2 separate regions of the Homo sapiens genome follow, and region 1 is linked to region 2. Evidence: fine-mapped expression QTL. A gene starts in region 2. The other region holds a variant in brackets. All regions are shown on one strand. Distances are from middle to middle.

What was found. PIP is the estimated chance that this variant, and not a neighbour inherited with it, causes the effect. A credible set is the group of variants that fine-mapping cannot tell apart.
Region 1: its variant is the best candidate, but not a certain one, in a credible set for the expression of RCSD1 in whole blood (INTERVAL, PIP 0.51).

The regions. Positions count from the first base shown.
Region 1 is chr1:167,568,151-167,572,542 of GRCh38, forward strand. No RefSeq gene overlaps it. Among named protein-coding and RNA genes, the nearest start is that of CREG1, 17 kb to the left of the region's middle. The variant C/T (reference allele first, on the strand shown) is at 2,019.
Region 2 is chr1:167,627,935-167,632,326 of GRCh38, forward strand. It overlaps RCSD1 (RCSD domain containing 1), which reads left to right and starts at 2,298. Exons shown (of 7, transcript NM_052862.4): 1 at 2,298-2,495. The coding sequence starts at 2,490. RefSeq lists enhancers at 127-186, 267-436, 447-496, 3,015-3,084 and silencers at 2,155-2,234, 2,255-2,474.

The DNA of each region.
Region 1 (4,392 bases), 60 kb before region 2:
AGTTGTGTCACTTTTTCCTTTAACATTTAAATGGAAATATTTCATATGCTGGGCTTGGAAACTCAGCATTTCCCCACAGAATAACTGAGGATTCCCAGGGGTATATGCTGTTCACAATAGTTTTCTGCAAGATTTTTTATCTTGCTGGAAGCTTTCTCTGCTTCTTGTCCTGAATTAACCCAACAAACACTACTTTGCCTTAATTTCCCTGCAACAAACACTGCTCACCCAAAGCATAGCAGGTTTTTGTTGAAGATTTAGGGGAGGCGTTACATTGCCATGTACCACGGCAGATTATTTAAAATTGAATGTTTCAGTCTCTATTCTAGAAAGCTTCCCAGGCTGCCTTAAGAAACTTGAAATTCTTTTCCCTTTAATATGTACAATAATTTTGCTCAATGTCTTCTCTTAGCACAGCCAACGAGGCATGGCAGTATTTTTCCACAATAAAATGGCTTTCTGAGCATTTTGTTAAATGAAATATATTTCTTCTTTTAAATAAATTCTAGGGCCCATTTTAAAACTCCCTCTTTCACATTTACAAAATTTCAAAGGGAAACTTTAAGTAGTTACTCAGTATATGCTGATCAAATAAATTTCAAGCATACTGCTTAAATTCATCTTATTCCTCCATAGAAAGGGAGGAAAGCCTGGGGACAGTGGCTCACGCCTGTAATCCCAGCACTTTGGGAGGCCAAGGTAGGTGGGTCACTTGAGCCCGGGAGTTTGAGACCAGCCTGGGCAACAAGGAGAAACCCCATCTCTACAACAAATACAAAAAAAAAAAAAATTAGCTGGACATGGTGGCACACACCTGTAGTCCCAGTTACTAGGGAGACTGAGGTGGGAGGATCACTTGAGCCCAGAAGATCAAGGCTGCAGGGAGCTGTGAGCATGCCACTGCTCTCCAGCCTGGGTGACAGTATGAGACTGTTTCAAAAAAAAAAAAAAAAGGGTGTGTGTGTGTGTGTGTGTGTGTGTGTGTGTGTGTGTATAACATTTGTGTTTGTGTGTGTGGGAGGAACATCTGAGTGGGCATTTTGTGCCAAAGGTAATCATGTGTGCTATCTGTGGTAGGCATTATACTGTCCACCCAATATTTCTGGCTCTCTGCCTTCTGGGCACAAGGGGGGCCAACTTAGGGTTAGTGGGGCCATATGACTAGTTCTGGCCACTGAGATCTAAATGGAAATGACATGTATCACTTCCATTCAGACCCTCCAGAAGGCTCTTTCCCTTACCCTAGGTTGCTGTGTTCCAGATTGTGGGTGCTCTGTCCACTTGTATCTTGGATCAGTGTAGAGTAGATCCCTCTCCCACCAAAGCTGGTCTGCAGGGACCACAGTAAACACGTATTATGAGTGGGAAATAAACAATAAACCTGTTATTTGAAGTCACTGAGATTTAAGGACTATTCGTTACCATAGTATAGCCTAGCCTACTTTGATATACTATCTAATTGTAATTCTTGCAATCACCCTCTGAAACAGGTATTATTATCTCCATGTTATTGATGTGATTTTCTCAGGCCACAGAGCAAATACATGGTGGAGACTATTTTCAAATCCACCTCCATCTGACCCAGTGCCTGTGCTCACTACGCTGAATTTATACTTACATTTATGAACTTTACTTTTTGATGAATATTCTTACAAACAGGTTCATAGCTTTTTTGAATTTCCAATTTTGCTGAATTGGAACTTCCAGTTTTGAAATTCCAATCCAATTCCAGTGATCCCAATAAAACAGCACCATAGAATTTTTACTCAGTGTAATTTCATGTGATCCCCACAACACTCCTGTTATGTCAGGCACATTCTTTTTTATTTGTTTGTTTTGGTTTTAATTGTTTATTTTACTTTAAGTTCCAGGATACATGTACAAAACATGCAGGTTTGTTACATAGGTATACATGTGCCATGATGGTTTGCTGCACCCATCAACCCGTTATCTAGGTTTTAAGCCCTGCGTGCATTATGTATTCGTCCTAATGCCCTCCCTCACCTTGCCCCCCATCC[C/T]CCCACAGGACCCAGTGTGTGATGTTCCCCTCTCTATGTCCATATGTTCTCACTGTTCAACTCCCACTTTGAGTGATAACATGCGGTGTTTGGTTTTCTGTTCCTGTGTTAGTTTGCTGAGAATGATGGCTTCATCTATGTCCCTGCAAAGGACATGATCTCATTCTTTTTTATAGCTGCATAGTATTCCATGATGTATATGTGCCACATTTTCTTTATTGAGTCCCTCATTGATGGGCATTTGGCTTGGTTCCAAGTCTTTGCTGTTGTAAAAAGTGCTGCAATAAACATACGTGTGCATGTGTCTTTATAGTAGAATGATTTATAATTCTTTGGGTATATACCCAGTAATGGGAATGCTGGGTCAAATGGTATTTCTGGTTCTAGATCCTTGTAGCTTTTTTTTTTTATTTTGTATTTTACTTTAAGTTCTGGGATACATGTGCTGAACGTGCAGGTTTGTTACATAGGTGTACATGTGCCACGGTGGTTTGCTGCACCTATCACTCGTCATCTAGGTTTTAAGCTCTGCATGCATTAGGTATTTGTCCTAATGCTCTCCCTCCCCTTGCCTCCCATCCCCCGACAGGCCCCAGTGTGTGTTGTTCCCCTCCCTGTGTCCATGTGTTCCCATTGTTTAGCTCTCACTTATGAGGAAGAACATGCAGTGTTTGGTTTTCTGTTCCTGTGTTAGTTTGCTGAGGATGATGGTTTCCAGCTTCATCGATGTCCCGGCAAAGAACATGAACTCATTCTTTTTTATGGCTGCATAGTATTCCATGGTGTATATGTGCCACATTTTCTTTATACAGTCTATCATTGATGGGCATTTGGGTTGGTTCCAAGTCTTTGCTATCGTAAAAAGTGCTGCAATAAACATACGTTTGCACGTGTCTTTACAACAGAATGATTTATAGTCCTTTGGGTATATACCCCAGTCATGGGATTGCTGGGTCAAATGGTATTTCTGGTTCTATATCCTTGAGGAATCACCATGCTGTCTTCCACAATGGTTGAACTAATTTACACTCCCACCAACAGTGTAAAAGTGTTCCTATTTCTCTGCACCCTCTGATTGCTGCCTGCTACTTCCTCTGGAATCTTTGTCCCAGAGGGCCACTGGCCTGATGCCTGCTGGAGCTCTCCTGTATAAGGTGTCTGTCAACCCCTGTTGGGATGTCTCTCCCAGTCAGGAGTCACGGGGATCAGGGACCCTCTTGAGGTGGCAGCCTGCCTCTTAGCAGAGCTCAAGCTCTACTGCGCTGGTAGAACCCTCTTTGTCAGGATCCGCTGCTCTTTTCAGAGCTGGCAGGCAGAAACATTTAAATCTGCTGAAGCTACGCCCACAGCCGCCCCTTCCTCCAGATGCTCTGTCCCAGTGAGATGGGAGTTTTATCTATAAGCCCCTGACTAGGGCTGCTGCCTTTTTTTCAGAGATGCCCTGCCCAGGCAAGAGGAATCTAGGGAGGCAGTCTGGCCACAGCCAATTTGCCGCTCTGTGTTGAGTTCTGCCCGTTCCAAACCTCCAGGCTTTTTTAGCACGGTCAGGGGAAAACCGCCTACTCAAGCCTCAGTAATGGCTGATGCCTTCCCCCCACCAAGCTCAATCATCCCAGATTGGCTTCAGACTGCTGTGCTGACAGCGAGAATTTCAAGCCAGTAGTTCTTAGCTTGCTGGACTGCGTGGGAGTGGGAACTGCTGAGCGAGACCACTTGGATCCCCGGTTTCAGCCCCTTTTCCAGGGGAGTGAATGGTTCTGTCTCACTGGGGTTCCAGGCGCCACTGGGGTATGAAAAGAAAAACTCCTGCAGCTAGCTCAGTGTCTGCCCAAACAGCCACCCAGTTTTGTCCTTGAAACCCAGGGCCCTGGTGGTGTAGGCACCTGAGGGAATCTCCTGGTCTGTGGGTTGCAAAAACTGTGGGAGAAGCATAGTATCTGGGCCAGATAGCACAGTCCCTTATGGCTTCCCTTGGCTGGGAAGAAGAGGCTCTCCCACTCCTTGCACTTCTTGGGTGAGGTGACACCCCACCCTGCTTCTGCTCACCCTCCGTGGGCTGCACCCACTGCCTAACCAGTCCCAGTGAGATGAACAGGGTACCTCAGTTGGAAATGCAGAAATCACCCGCCTTCTGTGCTGGTCTTGCTGGGAGCTGCAGACCGGAGCTGTTCCATTCGGCCATCTTGCCAGCAGCCTCTGGCAGATTCCTAGTAGCCTCATTTTACAGACAATCCAAATAAAGTCCAGAGCCATTAACAGACATACCCTAAGTGAGATTCATAATGTGTGACAGAGCTAGGTCTTAAACCTAAGTTTTCTGACTTCAAGTTCAGGGCACTTTCTATGTCCAGGGTGTCTTTCAAATAAACTATAT
Region 2 (4,392 bases):
TCCTGGAGATCTTCTGTAGGGACAGAAGAAGAAGATAAGGGGAGTACACACACCACACCTACTCATGGCTGCCTAAACACAGCTCGGGGCTACCTCTTGGTCCCTCCCTCCCCGTTTTCCACCCCCTCCCTCAGGAGAAGTCCCAGTCTGGGGCCCAAATAGCTCTGGAGCAGCATTAAACTCTGCACTGGGGACCCAGGAGCATGGTGGAGGCCAAGCTTGTTTGCTTTGTGGTCATCTGTTCTCAGCCAAGAGAGGCCTAAGCAGGGCGTGGGGAGCAGCTGCAAGTCACCTTGGGTGACTGATGTTATCTAGGCCTAACGGTTTCCTCTGGGTAAGCACTTCCGCCCTCCTGTTTGTGAAGCCAGAAACCTGTGCTGGGGCAGCCCCATTCTGAGCACAAAGGAGGACTAGGTAGAGGGAGAAAGGAAAAGGCCCTGTGGAGCAGAGTTAGAAGACCTGATAGTAGACTATGCAGTCATCACTACGTCCTGCACCTTTAAAAAGAAAGGAAAGAAGCACGAGCAAAAGTGTGCCTTGCAGGTTACCAGTAAATACCCTTCCTTACTGCCGACTCTGCTCTCGAGTCTTCACCTGAGCAGCCATGTGGCTGGACTGGGAGGGGCCTCACTATTAATTCCTGGGAGTGAGGGCTCTTTTCACTGGGTCCCCGAGTGCCTGTCTCTAAATAAAAGAAATATCAGGCTCTTATTCATCTGAAGCTTGTACATGGGGCTAAGCATGATAAAAACAGCCACTTTTTGCAGAGTGCCTACTACATTGTATAGGTGAGGAAAATGAGAATCAGAGCAGTTAAGTGACTTGTCTAAAAAATACAACTAGAAAGTAGCAGAGCTGGAATTCAGCCCTCAATCTGTCTGTTCCTAAAACCAGGCGTCTTCCTCTATGCTTAGCTAAGCTAAAGAACTAGAAGCCACTCTGGCATTAGGGCTGCCAGTGTTTTAGAAAGTTGGGCCTTAGAAAGTTCTAGGACAGGAAGGAGGCCATATTTCTAAGACTGGTACCCAAAGCAGCAATCTAAGTGCCTGAAAGTGCAAAGATGGTGCCGGGATAACCAGAATCAGGGTAGTCTTTGTAGCAGGAGCAGACTCTCAGCCTTTTTTCTCTACTGTTTCTCCACATGTCTCTTCACAGTGCTCACCATCACCTGTCCCATTGCCCACCTCTGATGGGGCTCCCCTCCCCTGGTTGAGCTGGGGTTGGGCGGGTGAGAATGCTGTGGGATAACCCAGAGGCGTCATATACCCAGCCAATACCCTGGCACTCACAGGTCTCTCAAGGCATTTTCCTGTTTCTCTCTGCCGAAGGGTCTGAAGGGGGCCGGGATCCGGGTAGCAGGGAGTGACCCTGGTGCAGATTCCAGTCCCCGAATCCCTCCCATGCGGTCTCTGCTGCCCAGCCGGGATGGCCCTAAAGGAAGGTTGCTATGCTGGGCCCTATGGGAATCAGATGTTGAGCATCTTGCCCTTTGCTATATTTAACAGGAATGGAGACGAGGCCCTTTAGCAAGCAGCTTGTGGGAGCCAAAATTCCCACAAAACCGAATGCATCAGTCAAAGCAAGGTTTGAAGAAAAGATTTACCACTTCAGGGAGCTTGGAAAACTTTGCGTGGATTCCTGATTTTCCTCCTCCTCCTCCTCCTTCTACTCGTATACAGAAGATAGATGGATAGATGGATAGATAGTGGTTTCCTGGAAGGTGGAGAGGAAAAGAGGTGAGAAGGGAAAGGTGGTCCCGTCGGCGCCACGCTGAGCTCTGAAGCCTCGGTCAGAAGGGCTCCTCTTTTGGTAGAACACAAACGCCTTCCACCAGGGAGGGTCCTCGAACTCCACCCAAGAACTGCAGGGAAACCAGGTATGACAGTAATGCAATTTTAAAAAGAGGGAGAGGAAGAAGGAAAGCAGGAAGGATGGACACAAAAGAAGGAAATCGAAAAGAGAGGAAACAAAAAGAATTAAAGGACCACTCTAATTCTTGAAGGGACAGGAAAAAGAAAGAAGGCGCATTAAGGGAGGGAGACGTTGAGAAGGACTGAGACCGTGGCAAAGCCCAGGGTCCTGAGAAACTTCGCGAGACAGAGGGGCCCGGTGGCTGCCCATCCCCATGTTTGGGCACATGGAGTCGTGGCTCCCGCTCTTGAGTCCTGCCCTGGGAGGGACAGTATCTGTTTAGATTTGCGTCTAAATTTAAACCCTGATCGTCGGCCTCCCTCCCCGCTCCCCACCCTCCCCTCCCCTCCCCTTCCTCCCTCCCTCCCTCCTCCTCCTTCCTCGTTCTCTCGCGCAGGGCCCCCGCGGCCGGGGCAGTCCCGCAGCCGAGCGCAGCCGGGCGCGCGCCACCGCCCACTCGCCCTGTGCCCGCCGCAGCCCGAAACTGGCCACGGCCGGGAGCGGAGGGGACAGCGGGGATCGTGAGCTCCGGCCCGGGCGAGCGGGTGCGTCTGCCGCAGAGTCGGCACCTGAAGGACATGGAGGTAAAGGACCCCGGAGGGAGACGCGGGGCTGAGCGGTGAGCGGTGTATCGGGCGCCCCTTCCCCGGGCGGCTGCCCCTGCCCTGAGCATGGAGCACGCGGCTCATCGCTGCTGCCAACTAGAAGGGCAAATGCCTGCTGTTCCGACGCCTCCTTGACCAACTCCGAAGGATCGTCCCTGGTCCCACCTAGGACACCCGGGTTGGGAGGCTGGGGTTGGTAAGGAAAGATCTCAGAGGGAGAGAAAAGGGCTTTCCTAGAGGCCCGGGTATTTTGGCTAGGAACTTAAATGCTAAAAAAAAAAAAAAAAAAAAAAAAAAAAAAAAGTTAGGTGCAGCCAAGGTTTGTAAATGGGTAAACGTGTCAGCAAAAACTGCAAGAAGGCAGAAGCCCTTCAATCTGAAGAGATGGGTATTGAAAGAGAAACAGAACTGGCAACACGAGGCCAGCACGTCTTCGTGGGTCTGTGGGCTTCCCTTTTCGCTTTCGGAGTGGCATTTTAGAGAGTCCAGTTGTCTTCTTGCTTCTGAAGTCCTTCCTGTGTCTGTCGCATCTTCTTCCATAACTTTCTGAAAGCTCCCCTTACTGGTCAGTCGAATGACATTATTTCTGATAAAACTTAAGACTCCCTTGGACACCCTTGCCTCTGAAGCTGTGTGTATGGAGGTATGCTGGCCACATCTGCAGGCTTTGCCAGAGGGAGGCCCCGCACTTCTCTGCCTGCTGAGAGGAGGTCCGGGGACTTTCCTTGTTCTGTTCCAACCTCAGCAGAGGAGTGGTTGGGTGTATTCCCCACATCCCTCTCTTCTGCACATCTTGAGGCTTCCCTGTGTTTCCTCCTTGAAAATGAGACCTGATATGTAGCCCTAAGTCAATCTTAGTAGGACCTGGGGCTTTTGAGAAGATGCAAATGTTATATAGTTTTAAAGGTGATTCCCACTCATATTCAAAAGGAAACATGTGTTGCTCACTAGACTGTGGTCAGTGCAATCAGGATTCACAGTTAACTCCGCTATCTCTTCCCCGCTCCAGGCTCTGTGCCTGGGCCCTGGTGGTCTTTTTATTTTTTTCTTTTGAGACAGGGTCTCATTCTGTTACCCAGGCTGGAGTGCAGTGGCACAATCTCAGCTCACTGCAACCTCTGCCTCCCAGGCTCAAAGGATCCTCCCACCTCAGCCTCCCAAGTGGCTGGGACTACCAGTGTGTACCACCATGCCTGGCTAGTTTTAAAATTTTTTGTAGAGACAAGTTCTCACTATATTACCCATGCTGGTCTTGAACTCCTGGGCTCAAGTGATCCTCTAAGCCTTGGCCTCCCAAAGTGCTGGATTTGCAGGCATGAGCCACACCACTCCTGGCCCTGGTTGTGTTTTCTAAGCTAGACTCTGTGCTTGCCGGCAAAGCTTCATGACTTCTCTAAAGGGGCAATAAGTTTGTCCTTTAGAGAAGTCAGGGAGCTATATTCAGGCATCCAGCCCAGCCAGTTGTCTTCAAGGAACAGGGAATCACCTTCAAGGAGACTTTATAGACTGCAAGAACCACTGGAGTCTAATATGGACCCTCCACAGAAACATTTGCAAGGCCAGGAAGCTCTGGCAGATTAGGGCTGGCGGTGAGGCACGCACACAGCGAAGCTCAGCAGGTGGTGTGCACACATCCACCCAAAGATCACACAAACACAAAACAACAGGGTTCTCTCTGAGCTGGCCACTGCTTCAGGGCAGAGGAGGGAAATGGCCCAGGCAACACCCAGCTTCTTGGGTTGGGTGAAGTCTCCTTAAGAAATTGTTTTAGAAGTGGCTTCCCTCTTCTGGAAGTGTACAAACTGCCTTAGGCCCCAGGCTGCAGATTCACTATGATGTATGGCCTGTCTAACCTCTTGAAGAAAAGGATTGGAGA